Homo sapiens: one gene and its partner. The protein of the gene in region 1 purifies or fractionates together with the protein of each later gene. This does not show direct contact. Each region holds a gene or a part of one and is shown on either strand. Other genes may lie near its edges. The genes, in order: RREB1 and ZMYM2.

Evidence for each region.
Region 2: the proteins of RREB1 (region 1) and ZMYM2 fractionate together in Homo sapiens (co-fractionation; one large-scale study listed by BioGRID). This does not show direct contact.

What each region holds. Positions count from the first base shown.
Region 1 is NC_000006.12:7,110,670-7,114,698, forward strand, and holds part of RREB1 (ras-responsive element-binding protein 1), read left to right. Parts: intron 1-4,029.
Region 2 is NC_000013.11:19,961,727-19,965,226, forward strand, and holds part of ZMYM2 (zinc finger MYM-type protein 2), read left to right. Parts: intron 1-3,493; coding exon of another isoform or gene 3,494-3,500. UniProt on the Homo sapiens protein: Involved in the negative regulation of transcription.

The DNA of each region.
Region 1 (4,029 bases):
GAGAAGAACTCTTTGATTTAGTTATTTGCTTAGCTTGTGCTCCATTTTAGGTTAATGAACTTGCATTGTCTTTGTCTTAAAAATACTGCTAAACTGGTTGCATTTTAGAATGTCTTGTTTTTAAAGAGGATTTGCTGGATGTGTAATACTCTTAAGAAATGCTGCCGATGCTTACCGTTTTGTGGAATATCATTCTCTGGGTTTTTCTAGATACTGCTTTATTTCTCATCAGAAAATCAGACTCTAAGCCCTTATGGCAGACAAGTATTTGTTATGTGATGGGGAACATGCGTCTTATTGAGCTGGTACAGGTAGTGCATCCATTCCTAACTAGTTACATCATCCAACAAGCGACCTTTTGATTGAAGGGTCTTTTAAATTTCTTCGGGCAGACTCCCAAGGCCTTATTTGTATCCAACACAGGTACAGCGTGTTGAAGGAAGAAAATAAACCTACACGTATTAGTCCAGCATCTGATCAACAGCAGTTTATTGGTTACCTGCTGTGTGCCAGGCACTGTACAGTGTAGCTGCCTTAGGTCGTTTTTGCTCTTCAATTTTGAACTGTTGCGTTATTCCACTTCTGAGGTCAGTTAGGAAGTCTTTGCTTGCTATCTTATGCTTGCTTGCTAACATCATTTATCACCTTCAGCTAAGGAAATGTCCTAGTTAATGAAGTTTTAAAATGCTACCCTTTTAGGATTTTGCTCAGCATAATTAATATAAATTTAACTCCTATAAGAATTGGTTAAATATATTCTTTGGAAACAGAAGTGAATTCTTTTGATGTTTCTGTTCATTATCCTTCTGAAAAGTAGGTGGTGCTTAGAAGGTCATAGGATAAGGGTTGCTAAGCAGCTAAACAGAAGGATGCTAAAATTAACCAAAGCATTTTTGAAAGGGAGTCATTCCCTGTTTTACATTATTTACTAGGTTTAGTTAATTTCTGAATCTTCTATGTCCTTTGACCTGGGAAGGTAGGATGTTAAAGTTTGTTTTGGTTTTGTTATTATATTTAAATAATCTCTTTCTTTTGTAAGTGTCTTTAATTGAAGTTCAGTACTCTATGACCAGCCTTGTGGTGTCAGATGGCAGCTTGTCTGGTGGACTTCTTGACTATTACCAGTGTGTTCAGGTTGAACCTTCCTGAGGATTTGTGTGTATAGTACCCTCTTATTTCTAGTATTAATAACTGATTCCATGGTTTGTTTTGGAAATTCTGCATAATCCATAAAGTTATGTCTTTTATTCCGCATGAAACAGATTTGTATTCAAAGATAGAAATGCAATTTAGTATCAGTAGAAAGTATGCAATGTAGTCTGTCCTGATAAGGGGACAATAGCTTTCTTTCCCCCTTTACTGAGATTACCATTCCCTTAGATTAGGTTTTGATAGGGCTTCTCCTCCATTTCATTCCACCTCCCTAGTGCAGTTTATTCCGCCCAGTTCATAGCTATCTTTTTAAAAATAATTATATTAGGTTCAGAGTATCTTTGGAAGGACTGGCCAAATGTCAGAAAACAAAAATAGGTGTGATGTACATTACATTTCTGCCAAAAGTATGTTCAAGTATCTTGAAGTTTTTCATTGAGATAAAATGGTTGAAATCTAATTGAAGCCATGATGAGTAACTATCATCTCTTGGTTGAATGGTAAGCCTGTTGTAAGCCAAAAGTTTCCCTGCTTCAAGGTTAATTTCTGTACATCTGACCTATTGAACAGGCAGTGTTGAGTCATATTTTTTATGTCCAAATATAATTAAGAAATTGATAAATGTATTTTCTTTCTGTTTCTTTTCTCTCTTTCTTTCCTGATTTAGACAGTGATTTTTGAGTAGAAGTAGCCATGGCAGTTTTCAAAGAGCAAGGGTCAGACAGTGATTTCCACAGGGGGGTGAGGGTTGCAGGGTTGCAGGTACCTTATATCAAAGGTAAAAGGTACACCGTATGAAACCCAGAGGGAGGCATACGGTGTGCTCTCTGAAATGCATCACTTATTTTTCATTTCCCCCACTCCCATAGAAGGCAGAATACAGAAAAGAAAACTACTGTTGTTTTCATTACTACGGAGGTAAAAGAATGAGGAAGGTGGAGAGGGGTTTTTCCTTTTTTGTTAGCAGTCCTGTCGGCAATGTCATCGACTGTGCTCCGCCCAATTTCTCTTGTCACGTTCTCTGGTGTTCAGCGTGGTCTGAACTGCAGCCGAGTGTAGCTGGGGATTGCACTCTGCCGTTGGCAGTGGCGGGTTGGGGTGAAGCGGATGGGGAGGAGGAGACTGGGAGCGATCGGTGCATCTTATTTCTGGTGGGACTTCAAGGGTACTGAAGTTAGCCAGTCTGCCCATCAGTAGAGGTGGCTGACTGTGAGTAGGTGCTTCAGACGAAAGCATGGGAGAGGGTGGAGATTGTTTGTTCAGTGTGATTCAAGCCAGTAAAGCTAAGAGAATTCGAAAACCTCTGTGAAGTCCGGGGACTGGGGACTGGGTCCTGACTGCTCCTGCAGGGATTCACCTGAGGGCTTGCAGACATCATGAGGGTGGGTGGAGAAAGAGAATGAAAACCCCCACAGGCATTGTCAGACAGCCAGAGTGAAGAGAAAACGTCTCAGTGGGGGTAATTAGATAAAGCTTTTAAATGCTCTATTTGTTTTTCTCTAGTTTGCTTGGTATTTCATCTCTTTCCCCCTTTTCAGAGACTATGGGATAGAATTGTTATGAAAGTGTCTGATACTTCTGGTGGTTTAATCACTTTAAAATTTTTCTTTTTCATTCAGATATACCTTCTAGGACTTAGTTAATTTCACCCTGCTTTTGTGGAGGCCTTTAGCAAAGATTCCACGTTCATGCTGAGAGGAACACTGTGGGAGTTGGGTGGGTATGTTGACCCATTTTACAGCTGCGCGGTGGTCCACCCGGGGGCTGTTAATGAATCAAACTTGGAACCCAGAACTCCTAACTCCAGCCTAGCCCTGTAGAACAGCTGCTTTTTAGAGTCAGTTTGACCTCAGGAGGACTTAGCAGCATTAAATATATACTGCCTATTTATCTCCATGTGTATGGTGTGTGGTTTTTAAATAAGACCAGATCCTTTTCAAAATAAACCTAATTGAGTTTGAAGGTATAAGGAAATTTTAAAAAGCACTTCTGCTCTTGGTAGCATTTCTGTTGATGAACTGTGATGACATGTATCTTTTTAGTAGCCTTTCTACCTCATGAGATTGTTGTAAGGATAAAGTAGATGTTCCAGAAAGTCAAAATCTATAAACGGAAGAAAGTGGTATATTTTGAGCTCAGGAAGCTTTGTGGGTATCCATTCTGGATTTCCTTTCCAGAATTTTGCACACCTCCATTACCTTAGTCAAATTTTGCCTAGGAGTTTATGTTCAGATTGGGGAAATGCAGCACTTTGTTTTTGTTTTTAGTGCTGGGAGACTAACAGGACTAGCAAATTCTTCTTAATGTGGTTCACTTAGGTGAGGCAGAGTCTTGCTGTCGCCCAGGATGGAGTGCAGTGGCACAATCTTGCCTGTCTGCAACCTCCACCTCCAGGGTTCAAGCGATTCTCCTGCCTCAGTCTCCTGAGCAGGTGGGACTACAGGCACACACCACCACGCCCAGCTAATTTTTGTATTTTTAGTAGTAACAGGGTTTCACCATGTTGATCAGGGTGAGGGATGAGTTTTAAGGAAAAAGCTGATGACAAGCTTGGGGCTTACTCTTTGAAGAAGTGGTTCTCAACCTGGTGGGTTTGCCCCCAGGGGACTTTTGGCACTGTCTGGAGACATTTTTAAGTGTTTCTGGTGGGGGGGGGGGCGGCAGCGGGGAGCTGCTACTGGCCTTTAGTGCATAGACCCCAAAGATGCTGTTCCACATCTTGGAGTGCACAGAACGACCCCCATACGTCAGCAGAGCTGAGGTTGAGAAAGCCTGCTTGAAAGGTACAGTAGTCGTGGCCTGGGTCTCATCTACAAGTCCACTGGGTGCGCTGCCTGTATTGCATGCGATATATTTAGAAATCTGAAATTCCATAAA
Region 2 (3,500 bases), on another chromosome or scaffold:
AATACCAGAATGGTTCTTGTTTTGCTTAACGATTTAGCTTAGAGTTGAACATTTCTTTACTTAAAAACAGCAACTAGTGATGCTGCTATGTGCTAGACAGTAAGATGAAGATAACCTGATGATTTTTAATTGGCCTTGACTAAATAAGTACTTTTATTATACAGTAGGAACATATGTAAATGCTTTTAGATCCATTTACAAAGTATTTTGACAGTTAAAAATACTTTGCATATTTATGGCATATTTCTTTAGTGCATCCTTTCTAATATCTGTTCCCTCCCACCTATCCTTTTAAATTGTTGGGAGGAAGATATAAAGTGGTCCCTACTTTTCCATGGGCTGGGCTTTTGTATCTCATGTGGTGAGACAATCCTGAATCACTCAAGTATGACATATATGCTGACATATGAACATTTTTAACTTCTGTGTGGATATAGAGCTTATATTATCTTTGAACAACAGTTTTTATTTTTTCAGTTTTATTGTATTTTGCCCTTGTTTGAGGTACAGAAGTGTACAAATTTAATATTAATGCATTTGAGACAAAGTGAATCTTTACCTTCAGTCAGATGCTCTGGTATTAATGTGATGGGAAGAATGGGTATGAAATGCTGAAACCCTGGTGTCAAAAGGCATGGTATAATTAGAATTGTTATATTTCCTGTCTCTCTAGCATTAATATGTCTCTATACCATTTGACAATATTATTAATATATATCATAATAAATGTCGTTGATTATGAGAAGACTGGGCTATTCAAATTGCATGGGATATATATATATATATATATTTTTTTTTTTTTTTTTTTTTTTTTTGAGATGGAGTTTCACTCTTGTTGCCCAGGCTGGAGTGCAGTGATGTGATCTTGGCTCACTGCAACCTCTGCCTCCTGGGTTCAAGTGATTCTCCTGCCTCAGCCTCCCAAGTAGTTGGGATTACAGGCATGCGCCACTGTGCCTGACCAATTTTGTATTTTTAGTAGAAACAGGATTTCACCATGTTGGTCAGGCTGATCTCGAACTCCTGGCCTCAAGTTATTCGCCTGCCTCAGCCTCCCAAAGTGCTGAGATTACAGGCGTAAGCCACCTTGCCCAGCCATTTTTTTTTTTTTTTTTTTGAGACAGAGTCTCTGTCATCCAGGCTGGAGTGCAGTGGCGTGATGTCTGCTCACTGCAGCCTCCGCCTCCAGGGTTCAAGCATTCTCCTGCCTCAGCTTCCCAAGTAGCTGGGACTACAGGCACGTGCCACTACACCTGGCTAGTTTTGTATTTTTAGTAGAGATGGGGATTTTTAGTAGAGACAAGGTTTCACCATGTTGGCCAGACTGGTCTCGAACTCCTGAGCTCCGGTGATCTGCCCGCCTCAACCTTCCAGAGTGCTGAGATTACAGGCGTGAGCCACCGTGCCGGCCTGCATGTGATTTTTTTAGCGAATGCAAGGAGAGCCCAAACTCAAGTGTTTTCTCTCATTGGATTCACAAATAGTATTTTATGTAGGGCATTTCAATTTAGGGAAGAAATAAATTGCTTTGACTCCCTGCGTTTTGCTCCTTTAAAAACACTTCAGTTGGTTAATTTTCTTATATTCCTGTCAAAGCATAGAAGTGAACAGGACTTTTGAAGTATTCAGATCAAAAAGTTCTAATGCAGGTCTCCAATATATAACACTTACAAAGTTGTCAATGAGAAAAATTGCTGTTGGATAAATCCATGAATTTGAGTGCAGCAATCTGAGTAACAGTTGCAGCTTATTTTCATATTTTATTTTGGTTGTATACCAGCAAGAATTTTTTTTTTTATGTAGTTGGAGTTGCACATTTTTATATTTACAACCTGGTTTTTTAAACAAATCACTTCGTAGTCTTTGATGTCTCTTACTAAAATAGACATATGAAAAGGGTCTTTATGGTCATCACCAAATGCTTGGCAACAAGATGAGTTGGTCATTTTAAAATGTGTTAAAATTTGGATTATAACACATTTGAACATATCTGTTGTTTTTGTGCATATTTAAGATATATTAATTTTTTTTGGATCAAGCTTTACACAATACTTGAAGCACTTCTGTGGAGCTGCAGAATGAATTTTCGTAAACATTTTTTAAACTCTTTTTAAGAGTTTAAAAAGATGTGCAGAGAGGTTAGCAAAATCACTTGATTAGTATGACTTTGGGATTTGTTCTTAGTCCTGTTTTATTTTTAACTTTATAACAGTCCATTGAAAATTAGAAGTAATAAATTTTAAGAAAAATCAATGCTCTTTAATTTGAAAGAAGGGTATAGCTGTTGGGTTTTAGTTTTACTGATTTGATTAATGTTCTGTAAATATTCATGTTTGCTATTTCAAGAAATGACATAAGAGTAAACTGGTTGGCCGGGCTCAGTGGCTCACGCCTGTAATCTTAGCTTTGGGAGACTGAGGCGGGTGGATCACCTGAGGTCAAGAGTTCGAGACCAGCCTGGCCAATGTGGTGAAACCCTGTCTCTACTAAAATACAAAGATTAGTCAGGCATGGTGGTAGGCACCCGTCATGCCAGCTACTCAGGAGGCTGAGGTAGGAGAATCACCTGAAACTGGGAGGTGGAGGTTGCAGTTAGCCAAGATTGCACCACTGCACTCCAGCCTGGGCAATAGAGTGAGAGACCGTCTCAAAAATAAAAAAAAAAATAAAGTGATTATTCACAGAAATAGATAATGCATGTTTAATAGGTCGGTTTTTTGTAGAGACAGGGACCCACTTTGTTGTCCACACTGCTCTCAAACTGCTGGACTCAAGCGATCTTCCCACCTTGGCCTCCCAAAGTGTTGGGATTTCAGGCGTGAGCCACCATGCCCAGCCAGTAGGTTGGGTTTTTAAAAACTTTTGCACGTTTATGTTTTATTAGTATAAGTTATCATCTTGTTTTTGTTTATTCTTAATTTAGACCGTTCTCTTTAATGTCAGTAGGCTGCCAAGGATTAGGTTTTTCTCTCTTTTTCAGAGGGTTCCAGATTTTTTTTTTTCTCTCTAAGTGTTCCTAGTGAATTTCAAGGTCAGATTAGTTTTTGTGAATTTATAAGTTAGTCTAAAGAGTTTTTAAAAATTTATCCATAAAAATGTTTTTTTATATTACAAGTTAATGTTAAATTGTAATCAGGATAAATTTGCTAGGAATATAACTAATTGTTGCAACTTCATATGCAAATGTTGGGAAAGATCTGTTAAAACTCTTGCATTAAACTTATTTGTCTCTAACCATGCATTTAGGTTGGATAAGAAAAATACTTAAGTTAGTGGGTGCAGCGCACCAGCATGGCACATGTATACATATGTAACTAACCTGCACAATGTGCACATGTACCCTAAAACTTAAAGTATAATAAAAAAAAAAAAAGAAAAATACTTACATAGCTATTCTAAGTAACATTGGGATGCACAGTTAGAAGTTGCAGACAGAATAATGTTTGTAAAATGTGACTATAATACAGTGAGACAAATTCTTTTTACTTTATAGCCATACA